2 linked regions of the Homo sapiens genome follow. The protein of the gene in region 1 interacts with the protein of each later gene in a pairwise test. Each region holds a gene or a part of one and is shown on either strand. Other genes may lie near its edges.

What was found. Proteins that work in one complex are often made in the same cells at the same time.
Region 2: the proteins of MYLIP (region 1) and LNX2 interact in binary tests that used the Homo sapiens proteins (3 or more experiments, as listed by UniProt).

The regions. Positions count from the first base shown.
Region 1 is NC_000006.12:16,138,126-16,146,525, reverse strand, and holds part of MYLIP (E3 ubiquitin-protein ligase MYLIP), read right to left. Parts: intron 4,971-8,400; exon of another isoform or gene 4,902-4,970; coding exon 4,716-4,901; intron 3,507-4,715; coding exon 3,309-3,506; intron 2,828-3,308; coding exon 2,663-2,827; intron 1,630-2,662; coding exon 1,209-1,629; intron 1-1,208. UniProt on the Homo sapiens protein: E3 ubiquitin-protein ligase that mediates ubiquitination and subsequent proteasomal degradation of myosin regulatory light chain (MRLC), LDLR, VLDLR and LRP8. Activity depends on E2 enzymes of the UBE2D family.
Region 2 is NC_000013.11:27,560,830-27,568,529, forward strand, and holds part of LNX2 (ligand of Numb protein X 2), read right to left. Parts: intron 7,011-7,700; coding exon 6,811-7,010; intron 1,953-6,810; coding exon 1,584-1,952; intron 1-1,583.

The sequences.
Region 1 (8,400 bases):
TGGTAGAGATCTTTGCCGTCTCACAGGTTGAAAGTTTATACTTTACAAGGGCTTAAAAATAAATACTATGACATAGTATAAACTGAAGGAAATTAATTACATTTTTAGTGAAACGCTAAAGAAGGTACATTGAATAAAGCAATTACTGAAGACGTCTTTCTGTGCAGAATGTGGTCTCTACATGAGTAGACTATAACACTTCAGGCAGCAATGCAGGAGACCCTTCTTGAAATTGTGTGTCCTTAGCTCAGCTGACTGACTCAGGCCAACATTTCTGGGCTGATGCCCACATGGCCAGGGAGGGTGGCTCTGCTTCTAGCCGTAGGTGGCAGCTCCACATTCCTGGCTGACTTCTCAGAAAGCCCGTGCCCATCATCAGCCCTCAGGAGAGACTTAGGGATGAGAGTCAGAATAGGTGGGCAGAAAAAGACAAGCCTATGACTGCTTCTGGGGAAAGGACACAGGGGTCATTTGGTCTTATTAGCTCTGAAATTAGCAGCTTCTGAAGGACTAAGTATTATCTAGAACCAGTTTTACATAAAACCACAGTGACATTTGGCAAACACATCTGAGAAATAAAAACAAATTGAAAAAACTTGTAAGAGGAAATTTAAAATTCTTCTTCATGCAAGAAAGGAAGAAAACTATATGTGAGTTCTCTTTTTCGTGTTAATATTAAAATTAGTTTGACTTGCTAATAAATAACAGCCAACCCATATGCCCTTGAGGCATTTGCAATCATAAAAGGAAATTAATCACCAATATCACAGAGTCAACAACCCATCCATGGATAATTGAGAAGTATTCTTTCCCAAATATCTTAAGTAATAAAGACCATCCTCCTAAGTGTCAGAAAAAGGGAGGCAACTTGAAATAGAGGAAGCAGCCCTGGGCCAGGCCTCAGGAGGCCTGGATTCTTGTCCTCAGGTAAGCCGCTAACTAGATATGTTACCCAGGAATCTCAGCCTCATTTTCAGAACTTGAAAACACTGCATAATTTGGAGTAATTATGTTGTTGAAAATAGTATGCTAATCTAAAATGTTTCTAAAGGGCAATGCCTTTTAGGTCACCAAATACAAAGACCCTTTCCGGGTGAAGATGGGCATTCCCCGTCTGTGCATTAGCGAGCCAGTACCTGGCTCCTACTCCCCGTTAAGAGGAGGGATAGGTGAGGCTGCAGGCAAAAGTGGGCAGCTGACTCCCCTACCTGTAGCTGGGCGGCGCAGCTCTCACAGCACACAGTGTGGCCACAGGGACAGAAGGTGGAGTTGATCTCCTCCTCGCAGCACACCATGCACAGCATGGCTTCCTTCAGCTTGCGTAGCTTCTCCTGCAGCACCCGGGTCTGCTGGCAGCTGAGGCCCTCGCAGCTGCTGCAGTTCATGCTGCTTTCTGAGGACTTCAGAGGCGAGTGTGAAGGGCTCTGGTTGTTTCTTGAAACGAGGTCCACAACGCCAGCATTGTACAGAGCCCTCCTGGCATGGTCATACACCTCCTTTGATGTTCTTTTAATATCAAAGACATATTTCTTGCCAAGGTTAATGTTTTCATTCAGAAACAGAGATGCCAAGTGGCCCTTCAAGTCACGGCTATACTGCATCATCACGGCGCTGGTCACTGTGTCACACCTGCAAGGCAAGATTGAACATCTACTTTAACACCAAAGAGCCTGGCAGCACCCTTATTCGCTGTTGTCAATAAGAACAGAAATGTCAGCAGATGTTTCATAGTCTCGTCTGCATGTATGAAAGTAAGTCCTTCCAGTTTTACGTCTGGTAAATATTCTCAGTGATTACACCTCTGTTTCTCTAACATCTCCTGACATTATGGCTTCCGTAAAGCAGTAAATACAGAGGGCAGTGAGCACGTACCTCCTCCCCAGGACAGACGCTACTGAGTGAAGTTGCTTATGGAAGAAAAAGGGCATCTGCCTGAAGTCTTGGCTTTTAGGTTAGAAATGTCTAAAAATTTCCCATCCTGTTTCACAATTTGTGTATCTATTTTAAAATAAAAAAGTTTAAAGTTGTCTACGACTTAAATTTCTTAGCTTTAATTGTCCAAATACGTGAGTCCAATCACAACTTGGCTTTAAAGTACCCTCTGAAATGAGGGAATCAATATTGCTATTAAAAAATCCTTCCATACACAGTGACGACTCAGGATAGCAGCTCTGCCAGAAAGAAAAGATGATCTGTGCTATCCTTCTCCTGAGCAGTGGAGCAGGCCCAGTCCCTCAGGGTTACCTTTAGGGTAATCAAACTTGGCTTTGAAGCTGAGTCCTAGACTAAGTAAATAATTATCCTCCCAGTTCCCTCATCTTTAACATTAGGGTAATAATAACCCCTTAGGGTTGTTGTATTGATTAAATAGGCATAGAAATCTCCTAACACACTTTGTGTCTAGATTAATGGCATAAGAGAATACGGTAGGAGGTAAGCAGAGAATGTGTTTGTGCAGCTCACACACATGCACCTTCTGTGGGTAAAACAAGACTACATTAATAAGGACTCCACTGCTACTACGGAAACAAAATGTTCAGAATTTCTTAAATTCTGTACTAGACTCATTGACACAACAATCCAAGGAACCGTAGAAACCTGGTTGTCACCTAAAAACCTGAGAGCTGTGGTGCTGAGGTGACCAAGCACACGAGATACGTGCCTGTAGAATGCGTGCGTCTCTGTTATCGCTCGGTAGAGCCCGCTGGCCGCCCTGGTGCTGATCATTTTAAACAAGAGCACGATGCTGTTCCCAGATTCCTTGGTGACCGTCAAATATACATTCTTTCCTGACTGGGTGGCCATCTGCACCACAGGATAAGCTATCCTAAGAGACAGGAAGAGAAAAGAAAGCAGATCTAGAAGGAGTGATTCTTCACCATGTGTGTGCCTTTGTGGGATCCCCATTTGCTCATGACCTAGCAGAAAAATCAGACGCTTCCTCTGGGGTTATCACATCACCATAATGCTGCCTTATTGTAAAGATACAGTGAAAAGCAGTTGGGCATATGTGGAGGGAAGTATGGGAGCAAGTGCTGGGTGTGCGCACATGCATGTCTAGAGCTGAAAACAAGTTTTTTATGGCAGTGAATGGGTTATTTGGAAAACGTTAACTCTGCCACATTGTATACCTTGAATAACATTTAAAATGGTTATTTAGGCCTGAATAAAATTAATGTACATACCAAAATGAAATCTTTCATTCCTAAGAGCTGACTGTCGAGTAAATCCCTTCCTATTTTCTATTACATTGACAGCTACAGATGTATACACATGCTTAGGTCAAAAAAAGTTAAGTCTTGGCTTACCTATTAATTGGGCTAAAGTCATCTTTACAAATTGAGATTCCTTCAGGTCCAACCCCAATGAGCAGTTTCTGCCCTTCGCTATCCCGCACAGAATGCCATTCTATGCCATAGTTTTCCATTGCCGACACAATCTGCAAAACTTGGTATTCAGCTGAAGCCTGGCTGGTCCCCTCCAACTCCTTATGTTTTGCAACAATGCTGGAGGACACCAAGAGGACAGAGAATTAAGTATACAGATATTAGCTTTAGAGATAAACCTATGTAGTCTTCACGAGTGAAATATACTAACACTGATGAATCACAACAACTTAAAACTTATGTATTACTGATGTTTCATGTATTTAGCGAACTTACTATAAAAAACGTCTAAGACACTGGGATCTCAACTATTAAATACTTGGTAAAAACACTTTGGGGATGCTGGATGGGTGATGAATTGGAAGAATTATGGAAAGTCTCTAAAAATATACATAAGTCAAATTTACATATTGGAAAGTCTCATGCATTTGTCCACATATAGTTTATAAGTATAAAGTTGACCCCTGAGGCCCCTGTGGCCAGGGAAGGAGGTAGGCCAACAAACCACAGGAGTCAACCTGGCATGGAGGCCACCCTCAGTCGAGCCTTCAGATGAGACAGAGTTCTACCTGCAGCTTGACTACAGTCTCATGAGCCAGAGGACCCAGCCAAGACATGGCCAGATTCCTGACCTACAGAACTGTGAGACAATTTTTGTTGTTTTATGTCACTAAGTTTTGGGGTAACTTGTTATGCAGGAATAGATAACTAAAATGCCTATGTTAGATCTCCTGGTTTAATTCTTGCTGGGATGAAGAAAACACCAATATACATAATAGATTTTTTATTTTAGGAGATTTGTACTTAAAGGCACAGATTTAAAAAATTCCCATTTTATATAGCATTTCATATTGTGTTTACATATTTTTCAAATAAAAGGCTAACAAATTTTTTGAAAATATTTGGTTAAATTGGGCAATGGCCCAGTCTTAACTTCACAAATTATGTGTATGTACCACAGATTCATCTTCTTTTGGAAATGCTTATACATTTGATAGCTCTATGAATATATGCAGTAGCCCTGATGCTGCCATGTTCATGCTCTGGTGTCTCTGGTCTTGCTGCTCCCTCTGTCCTGATGGCCATTCTTTCTGTCCCCTTGCTTGGATACCCTTTGGTCTGTATCACATGCAAATCCTCTATTCCTCTGGTACAGTATTTGACATAACATGTATATTATGTATGACTTCTTAAGTGCCTCGAACATCAGAGAGCTCAAAAATGTACATAAAACTGCATATTATGTGTGATTAGTTTACCTTCCAACCTTAGTTTCATCCTGTTTAAGCCTATTCTAGTTGTAAACAATACTATATTCAACAGCCTCACCTGTTCAAGGTGGCAGAGGAGAGCTCCTTGGCACAGAGCTCCTCATAGTTATACTTGGCAGTGTTCTGGTTGTAGTCTCCAAACTTGGTCTGGGCCAGGAGGGCACTGAGTTCCACTGCCTGCTCTGGGGAACACAAGAGGTGGCCTGCCAAGAGGGCCTCCTTGATGTGCAAGAAAAAGATATGCCTGCAAAGCAAGGTGAGAGTGAGGTTATGCTTGGGGATAACCTGACATCAATCTCAGCCTACTTAGCAATTTCACAGTCACTTTTAAGGAAAGCAATTTTAAAAGTCACACTGAAAATGCTTAACATTAAAGAACTTCAAAAAAAAATCATCAGTATTAAGGCAAAATCAAAATAAGAACTGCGTTTCTCTGGAATAAAAGTTGTGACCCAAACAAGATAAACTTATTTAACACAAGTTCGGTAACATTAAGGTTACAAAACATAAAATAATTACACATAAGTTTCTGCATTATAGTGTTTTAAAAGAAATTATTTTAATCAGAAAAATTGTATCTTGACATGGATTCTGATAGAATCTTAAGGAACTCTATACATAAAGACAAAATTCTCACCTTTATTCAAATGATACCCCAATCTCTAGTCTCAGTGCCAGCTTCTGTCCTAAGAATCACATGAAAAATGTCCAATCTCCTATAGGCTTCACCACCTGGATGTTCTTCGGTACCTCAATTTTGGCTCATTCAAAACCAAACTCCATATATTCTTTCCCAAGCCCTTTTTCTCCGAATGGAGACCACGGACTGACTTTGGACTCTTTGTCCTATTTCACTTGACTTTCTTCTCTCTGAAAACTATTTAAATCCAGTTCTATCCTCCCATTTGTACCTCCTCAATACTACTTGCAGGAAGAATTTACACTATTCTCTGCGCTGCTCTCCTCCTCCAGACTCCATGCAGGCAGCCTACCTTCCATGCTGCTTGTTTCTAGTATAAACTTGTCATTTCTCTGCTCAAAATCCTTCAAAGGATCTGTACGGCTTGCCAAGGGAGCACGTTGTTAACGTGGAGCTGAGGAGTCTCCGCCATCTGGCCCCAGCTTTCCAGCCACGTCTCCTGTCATTCCCTGCAGCTGCTATGCCCCAGGATAGGGAACGATTCCTCTCCCTGGGAAATCTAGGAAGCATGTTCATGCTCTGGTGTCTCTGGTCTTGCTGCTCCCTCTGTCCTGAGGGCCATTCTTTCTGTCGCCTTGCTTGGATACCCTTTGGTCTGTATCACATGCAAATCCTCTATTCCTCTGGTACAGTATTTGACATAACATGTATATTATGTATGACTTCTTAAGTGCCTCGAACATCAGAGAGCTCCAAAAATGTACATAAAACTGCATATTATGTGTGATTAGTTTACCTTCCAACCTTAGTTTCATCCTGTTTAAGCCCATCCTAGTTGTATACAATACTATATTCTACATTTACTAAAAGGTTATGTCACACTTAAAAACTCCTGTAAAATTCAGATACTGGTCACACTGCCCAAAACTCTGAAGAGCACCTAAACTGCTGTAGACAGATTGGCCTCAGTTATAACAAGTGTCCCTGGCAAATGTGAAGTTTTAACCTTCCTTCGATGACTTGTCATAACCTCTCAAACAAGGCTAATTGCCACATTATTCGTCCCATTAACAAATGAATTGTAACTTTGGCCAGGTGCGATGTCCTCAGCACTGTTTCTGTTTAATAATATATCTGTGTCTGACATTCCAGGTAGAGGAACATGAGCAAGGTAAGAATCGACTAAGGAGGAGGCAGTGAGGCTACAAATCTAAGGAGGTGCTATACTGAGAGTCTACAATGTCTGGCTGACAAGAGCCATTAATCTTATTTTCACTAAGAAGTATTTAAATTCAATGTTTTGTGCATTCTATAATGATAAAGAAATATTTAAAATGATGAAACTCTGCCAAATACTGCAGTTTTTTCTTTTTTTCAAAGCCCGTGTAAAGAAATCATAGTAAGAATGTGTAATAGCCTCAAAGAAGATAAAGATGGTTTTTATTAACCCAAACATCTGCTAATCTTTAAAGTATTTCTGACATACTGCTAAACTGAGAAAGGAGCCCCCACTGGGGCAAAGGAATCACCATGAAAATAATTTGCTGTAAAATAGCTATCTGAGGACTGAGATCCAGCATTCTCAGCAAGCCGTGGTTTACTACACTGTTGCAGGCCTCAAAAGGCTTCTTAGATGACCATTTGATAAACTTCATCTTGGTGAATGTACCCATCTCTGTATTCGACTGGGGTGGAGGTGTGCTGTTAGGAAACTAAAATCTGCATCTATGCTTTCGTTAAAGAAGAAATTACGCTCTGAAAGACTTGAAGAATATTGCCACAAACGAAGTCTTCTTAGTTTAATTACTGCTTATGTAAAAGTGGCCTTTTTTTTTTTTTTTGAGATGGAGTCTTGCTCTGTCGCCCAGGCTGGAGTGCTATGGCACGATCTGGGCTCACTGCAAGCTCCGCCTCCTGGGTTCAAGCGATTCTCCTGCCTCGGCCTCCCGATAGCTACATTAGACCATGCCTGTCTAATTTTTGTATTTTTATTAGAGACGGGGTTTCACCGTGTTAGCCAGGATGGTCTCAATCTCCTGACCTCATGATCTGCCTGCCTCGGCCTCCCAAAGTGCTGGGATTACAGGCAAAAGTGGCTTTTAACTTATTTTTCAGGTGTAAAGTTAGAGACTAGTTCCTGCTTTATTAGATAGTAAGAAGAGTTTTGAATCAATTCCGTGTCTTTTTGCAACCTATCCATGCCTACACTTCCGGAGAGACAGTGGCCAAAATCAAAGGCAAAGAAGCAGTAACAGAATGTAAACAGGTGGCAGGCAGCCTGAGAGCACCACTGATCCTTCTCAGCATATGGGCCAGAATTTAAGAAAAGATCTAGCAAGGGCGATGATTGACCTTTTCGACATACTCCACATTCTAGCCTGGAGTGCAGAGGATGCCTGGTAAGCATGAAAAATCCTTCTCCTTACTGTCAACATCAGCTTTCTGATAGTCCCTTCCTGCATTTTGCAGTTTCATGGCTATAAAGCAACCTTTTCATTTCAAGCCAATAAATATTTGTCTTGCACCGCCTCTGTGCCCAGCCCTAAGCTGGGGTTTTAGGGTAAACATGTCTGAGAGTTCCTTTTTAGATGGACTTACAGCCTTTTACAATAAAGGGACATATCCCATCAAAATAACTCCAGCCACAATCTAGCTTTTGGGTGACAAGTTTATGCTCTCCAGGAGAACAGTACAACAGAGTACTAGTAGCAAAGATCAGCACTCTAATAGGCTCTTTCCAAGACAGAGGATAGCAGAGCTCAGAGACATGTTTCCAACAAGAACTTCAGTGATGGCTCAATATTTATGGGTGGTTTTGAATCAAGTATTTTCTCTTAGTATTTTCCCCTCAAACCATCTGGATTGTAACTATCTGGCTCCTGGGTTTTGCCCCCTCCTTTTTTTTTTTGTAAAGTAGGCAAAATGTTACCAATAATATCAAAACAAGCAGATGTGGTCAAATAAGTTATGCCTGCAGTGAATGCTTTTGCACTAAAGATCAAAAGTAGATGACATATTCAATTCAATAGAGGCTACATCCTAGAATCACAAACAGAAAGAAAGCCTTTGGAAAAAAACTGTTTTCTCTGTCTTAAGGAAATGT
Region 2 (7,700 bases), on another chromosome or scaffold:
TGCTTTAAAGAAATTGTGGTACAAAGTGGAGACCTCTCCCATGATTATAGTCAATAATGTTAAGAAATCACTTTATTTTCAAATCTTACATTAGAAAAGAAGTAAGAAACAAGTTTAATGCCTTACTAAAATCATTTACTATTGGTCTCCTTTTAAGACATGGAGTATATGTTATTTTTTAAAATCCAAAAACAATAACGCTTTTACTTATTTTCAAAAAGAAACAGAGCAACTTTAGTTTTCCATTATTTGGAGAAAATTATAGCACAAAATACGTTGAAACTATTTATAACATCCAAATATAAAATATGATCACGGACAATTTAAAATACATTTTCTATCTGTGTATCTGTATTTTTCACATTTTGGTTAGAAATTTAGTTAGAATCATCCAATTGAATGAACTAGATTAGATAATTTAAACATTGCCTGAAATACATATAGTCCATCTATTATTTTCTATCTTATTGATCTGGCCTCTCACTTGACTCTTTTACTCAAACAGATGCTATAACTCTATTAGCTTTCTTCTTCCTCCTCCTCTTTTCTCCCCTCCCTCCCACTAATCTCCACTCTTACAAGATGAGCTGGGTTTTAGTGGTGCAGCTGCTGGCTAATACCCACAGATATAGGTCCTAATGTTGCCTTTGATTTGAGGAAATTTTAAGGCATCCAATTTCTTTAAACCTCAAGTCTATGAAATTAGACCAATATCAGAATCTCCTCTCAATACAATAAAGAGAGTTGAGACTTGAATTTTCTTATAGTCTTAAATTTTCATTGTTATTTGATTCTGTGTTGTAAACACATTCTTCAATGACTATCGGCCTACCCTACTTCCTGATCCTCAATTACATAATTCTTGGTTTCCTTTACAGTGTTTTGTTTTGCTAACTTTAAGAAAAACATCTTTTTGTTGCACCCTTATCACTGTAGAAGTTGCTCATATCATTAAATGCTATGGCATGTTGCAGAATGTATAGATCTCCTCTGGATGACTTTCCAACTTATCCATCTTCATGCTTTTATGAAAAACATGTTCTTTCTCTAATAATGACTATCCTTACTTATGTCACAAAGATGCTATGAGGACAAATTTTATCATGTATTTTAAACACTGTGAATTCCTTAGAAACAACAACAAAGCACTATAGAGATAAGAGTTATTCTTCCTCTATTTATATAGATCCTGACAGGGAGTTAAGAGACCAGGTAAGTCAGATCCTTGGTAATCACAGCTCTTTTGAGCCTCCCTTTCCTCACTTCTAAAAGGTGGACATATCATCTGCTACATCTGGCTTAATAGTAGAACCCAGGACCCAAATGAGAAATGAATGTGAAACAGTAGAGCCTACGCTCTGTAAATAACCATCCCCAAAATTCACAGGGATATAGTTTTTAGAAAAGACTATCTCCAATGAAGTTATACTAGTGTGGATTTTAAAGAATTCAGGTAGCCACACCCGATTTTCTAATGAAATATAAAATGTCCCCTGAATTCTGATGTTATTGGCCAGTGAAAACAAATACTACTATATGATCATTTCGGCCAAGCCTTTGGAATGAAGGCCAAGAGGGTTTACCTGAATAATCTGGGCAGCAAGCTCCGGAGTTCCATACTTCAGGTCGTGCCCATTGATGGCCAGCACTCGGTCATTGCTGCTTAGCCTGCCGTCCTGGGCAGCCAACCCCCCTTCCAACAGGTCAAGAATAAAAACCCCTGGCTCATCTGTCCTTCGCACCAATTTAATGCCAAGCTGTTCACCAGAGTCCCGTTTATGAAGAGCCACTTGGAAAATCTCTTCTCGTGGAGAGTTACTATCAGAATGGTTGTGTGCTCGGTTGCCAAAGCGCCTCTCTCGAAGCACAGTAAGATGCAGTGTGTTGCAGGGCTGGGAAAGGACAGCTCGGGCATAGTTATGGGACACATTGCTGATATTGTAGTTGTTGACCTAGAAAAAAAGAATTGTGACCGAAGTGTGACAACCTTTTATTTTTCCAATTTGTAGGAATGTTTATGTGACATTTCCACAGGAAACTAAGTATTGTGAGAGTGCTAAGTATGGTGAGAATGCTATACAATCATTATTTACAAAGAAAACCACATTAAAGACATTTAAAAACAGAGTTTCTAATATTAACTTACAGTGACTAGCATCAAGGAGAGAATAGTAGCTAGGATCACGGGCTTTAATGACGGTCTTGAATTAGAGTCCTAGGTACTACCATTTACTAACTGATAACTTAGGCAAATTATAGAACTTGTCTGAATGAGTCTCCTCATCTGTAAAATGTGTTTACTTCATGGGATCAGTATGAGAATGAACAGATTAACATGGGGCAAGTGCTAATGAAATAAATACTAATTCTAGTGGAACAGAAATTTAAGTTTTACTAGATTACAAATTTGCTTCTTCCAAATTAAATACACTTAAGCTAGAGAAAATAAATTGTTATTTTAAGGAAAGTAGCACATTTCAGGTATACAAACTTATTTTAGATAAGTGACTTTTACCTGAAAGAAAACCAGGTTAATTGTAATTTCACTCTAATTCTTCAGCACAGAAATATTAGGTTGGTGCAAAAGTAATTACGGTTTTTACCATTAAAAGTAAAATATAATGTATATCTAATGCATTATTCAATACTCATATAACATTTATGTATTCACCTTTATAATCTCAAAAAAAGTATAGTGACTGATCCTTGGGTATGTAACAGCACTTAGAAAATACACCTAACTTCAATTATTTCTTTAGTTACAAGAGATGAGCATGATTCTTAGCATTTATCACAATTAGAGTTCTTCTCTGAATCGGTCTGAGATGAAACCAACATCCTCTGACCATCTGTTATATGACAGGCTCTGAGTTAGGTGTTTATGATCACCTAAAATTCTTACATCTTTTTCACACAAATCCACATTAGGCAAGACTTTCCTCTTCCTATTGACTTAGGATTGATAGTTGTAAATACTATTTTGAATTTTGTTGATTTTGACCTATTAACACCTTTCAGAATTCAGTCACCAAATGCACAGATGTCACACACAAACTTGCTTTCTCCCAAGTCTGCAACATCTATTAATTTGGTAGTCATCCAAGTCCTTGGTAAAAGTATTGAATAATACAGGGTCAAGAATGGAACTTCTGAAGTTCTATTATATTTAGAAAGCAGCTTCTAAAAATCCACGCAGATATAGATTCATTAGTCAAACCACCATTTCCAACTATTTAGCTACAAAGCTACCTACCTGTAGGTTCACATTTTTCTGTCTTATATTCAGACATATCACACATATCACAAATGACTTTACAAAACGTCTGGCTAAAATCCAGCCATGTGTAAACATGCAGCCTCATAACATCTTTGTGAAGCAGGCTGGGGAATATTCTACAACTGGAAAAAGATTTTTCCTCCAGGAATGCATGGTTGCCAGTGAAATTCAGAGAAAGCAGAAACCAAATAAAATATTGTTTCTAGATTTTGTAAAAATAACATCAGCATAGCAAACTATCTCATTTTTGAGCTAAATGTATTTTTTTATCAATCAACAGCTGTAATTATTTTCCTTCAGAACTGAAAATGCCATTATTGATGACTTCATTAAACTGAAAATACTTATTCTTAATAATGTTCTAAGTTATATTACTTTTATTAATGATATTGAGGTAATTTATAATAGCAGTATTTTTTTTTCTTCAAAACTGCTCAAAGAGGCTGCATATGAAACTCTAAGAGTAGCAAAAAGCTCTAACAGCATATGGTTCTCCTTTTCAAAGAGGCTATTTAATAACATTTGTATATGTAAATAAATATATATAAATGTGGGAAAACCACCAAAGCCACACACTGCTTATGTATATGGTCTGCAAAAATGAAAATGCAAGCTAGCTCTCTGGTCTGCAAATCAACCATCTTACTGCCTCTTCGAGATTTTCAAATTGGCTCACTGTGTTATATTTATTTAGCTTATACAAAGTTGGAGGTAACCAGATAGTAAAAAATACCAATAGGCCTCTTTCCAAGTGTTTACTCTTGAATAACCATAAATAGTCCATATGTGGGAAAGGGGGGTGGCTTTACTTGGCTCCAACACACCAGTTAAAAGCCAACCAGAAGTCAGGGCCTATAATAGGAGAGACCCTTTGTGAATTCATTAATCAGATTATGTGCTCAGACTTTTCTTATCAATTTGAATCATTAAACTAGATGTAAGATTGCCATTATTGGAGTTATTAGTATACAGGTTTCCATAAACAGTAATAATGCAGTGGAATTTCTACAATGTAGACTTTATAACTGAATTAATTCCCAAAAATATGGTTGATAATTTCAGATAATTACAATCTTTTGAGGTCTAAAGATTCAGTAGTGTTAATGAACCATTCTCTAAAATAGAAACAAGCCCACTGATGAAATGTATTAGTAAAAAAACTTAAACAAATCTGTTATATTCAAAGAAATATAAATAAAAACATTTGTAACAATACTGGGCTAGTAGCAAAAAATAAGTGTACACTTACATTTCAGCTAAAAAGCCCAGAAGTGGGAGAGTCAAAGAACACTCAGTGGGCTGCAGAAAAGGACTATCTGCCCTTCCTGGTCCTGACCACCAAAGTGTCAAGATGTCTGGGAGGATGAACCTGGGAAATGAGCTGTAAGAGTCGCTCTCTGCAAAATCAAGTCAGGAGCTAGGATGTAAATAATACAAGGGGTCCTACAAGTTGTGCCAGCCTGTGCAGCTAAAGTACTAATATCATAAAATGCAGCTAGGATAACTAAATAGCTAGCTATGACAGGATCAGAAATCTGATTTTATATGAGCTGGATTAGTTATGTTCCTGTATTCGTCTATTACATCTAAGTATTTGGTAAAAAAAACACTGTTTGAAAGCTCAGTCTGTCTCAGCCATGCCTAGGGGTAATGAAGGAAAGGTTTTAGGCTTGGTGTTAATTATTTTCAGGAATAATACACCATGAAAAGCAGCATACAAGCGGGAGTGGAAATCAAACCCAAGAATCCCTAGTAGGGTCAATCCTGGCTGCCTTTGTAGACTCCCATAGCCCCAAGTCTAGAGATTTCTTTTCAACAACTAAAAATCCTAACCAAGTTTTTCTTTTAATAAAGGAGATGGCTATTCCCAACAGCATCTTATATTCAAATTCACTCTTTTATTGACTCAGCAAATATTTTCTGAGCACTTACTACAAGCTATGAGAAATCTGTATCATAATCTGTACCATTAGGGTGGTTGCAATTACCTTAGATCATGCCTACATACGTAAAATGTTCAAACAATTCTCTGTAACTCATCACGTGCCAAGTGATGAAGAGAAAAGTGATGAATGCCAATAATAACTAATGTAGGAGGAATCAGTATGGGGGAGAATGGCTGAACAAAAGCTTTAAGGATGAAGGTGAACAAACTGGCTCATGAGATGAGGACAGGCTGCAATGTGGGAATAAGGTGTTTGCAGGGAAGGAAGAAGACTGCTATGTCTGGCTCTTCCACTAGATTGTATATTCCACGAGGACAGGTCAGTATTTTGCTCTGAAATGTACCACCAGCAACTAGTATAGTGCCTAGAATGTTGTGAGAAATGAATGAGCTGGTGTGCCTGAAATGAAGAATTGAGATTAACAAGACAGGTTGTAGAAGAGACCGTGGAGGACCCTGACTATTAGATTAATCAGTCTGGACTTGACCTCCTAGTTGAACCTTTGCAAGGCAAGCAGGGTTACTGATGTATTAACCTGGCAGTGATTGTTTCAGATTTAAGGGAGGAGAGTTGGGAGGCAGAAGTATATGATGGGGTATTCTACTAAATTAGATATGAAGAAGAGAAGTCCTAGACTCAAGAAGTGGCAGGAAAATGGAAGTAGGGGGTAGATATCAACAGGTCATGGTGAAGGACCGAACCACAAATCCAAGGAGAGAGAGGAGTCCCTGCGCTTGGGTTGACAGGAGACATTTTTTCTTGTTCATGAATATTTCCTCTCTCTCCTAGAAGTTATCCGTTTTTAAGCTTCAATTATTATCACCTTTGTATGATGAAAATGGTCCAGGCCGGTATTAACATCAACTCCGGGATTGTAGAACTCTTACCATCCTCCTCCCCTCATCTCAACTTGCCCTCTAATAAAATATCTTGTCCCATGCTAGTTATTTCTGGAGAATACCTGTTTCTTCTTAAAGATCATCTTCTGAAAGGGAAAACAGTAAGGGGAGCGAAGGGGATTATTGAAAATGCAGAGTTAGAGTGTTTGCTGAGGAGAGTGCATTAGGGAGTTGATAGGAGATGACTGCAAGATTTCTGAACTCTATCTTATAATCTGTGGTATAAATTATGAGTGCTGCATGGTTCCTTCTTTTCTAGATTTTAGTAGTCTGTATAGAAAAGGATAAATCCAACAATGAAGGTAATGAATGGGAAAACTGGGTATAAAATAATACCAATGAGATGATAATTTCAACATGGATGAAGGTGACCCTTGAACAGTCATTCAAGAAGTCCAAGCAGGAAGAGGCTAGTCAGCCCAAGGAAGAGTCTAGCTAGCTCAGCAAGCCTGAGATCATGTGCCAAGCCACATCGCATGCAGGAATGAAAATTAAGATAGGAAGAAAAAATACTCTGTGTATATGGGAAAATACCACAAATTACACATAAATTCTGATGTTTTGCATATAGAAACAGTAAAACTAATCTATATATAATTTAGGTTCCAAAACAGCACAATTTTCTAAGGTTTAAGTGTTAAGAATGGAACAAAAAGGCACAAGTTAACAGAATAATTAAAACTGATACCTGAAGAATCTGGTCTCCAGCAAGAAGTCTCCCGTCTCTGGCAATGACCCCATCCCGATAGACCTCCTGGATGACAATGTTAATCAAAGGTGTTTCGTTGCCACCCACAATGCTGATTCCTAACTGAATGTAAGGATTGGACCGATGAATTTCAATCGTGGTGATTTCTCCTTCTGGTAAACTAAGTGGCTGTTGTGTGGCTGCCAAGTTAAAAATGAGACAGACAAAAACAGATGTTAAAAAAATAAACAAACCCAACAATTTATATTCTGATTATCTTCAGGTAAGTATGTCACATTAATACATGATTAACAGCTAAGCAGTATCACTGGATAAGAAACAAAATGACAAAATATCTGTTGTTAAGATTATCTAAAAATTTTCTCTACTAAAACTGATCAGTAAATAATAAATAGCTACTATGTATCAGATCACTAGGGACGACACAGTGATCTGATTAAGAAATATGAAAAGAAAGTCATTCTGTCCTCATTGATGAGAGAAAATTTGGACCACGAAACAACTGTACATAATGAGAGGCAGTACAAAGGAAACACTAGCTCTGTGGCATAGAAACAGCACAGGTGTTGAGAGAGTAGCCACATCAAGCTCGTAAGAAGAGGTGGGTCTTGAACGGAGACGTAGGAAATGAAGAAGGCGCATAGTTGCGGCAAGGAAAATTCAAATTTGTAGTAGAGCTTGGAAAAAGAAAATCATTTTTAAAAGGAAATATCAAGGGCCCACTACCATGATATGCCCAAGATCCATGACTACGGGCCTTCTGTTAACTTCCTAGTGGGTAACAGAGCAGTGGCTGGTACCAGAGGTGTATAACGGTGAGATGCATGGTCTTGGAGTCAAATACAAACCCAGTCATTTACTGGTTGTAT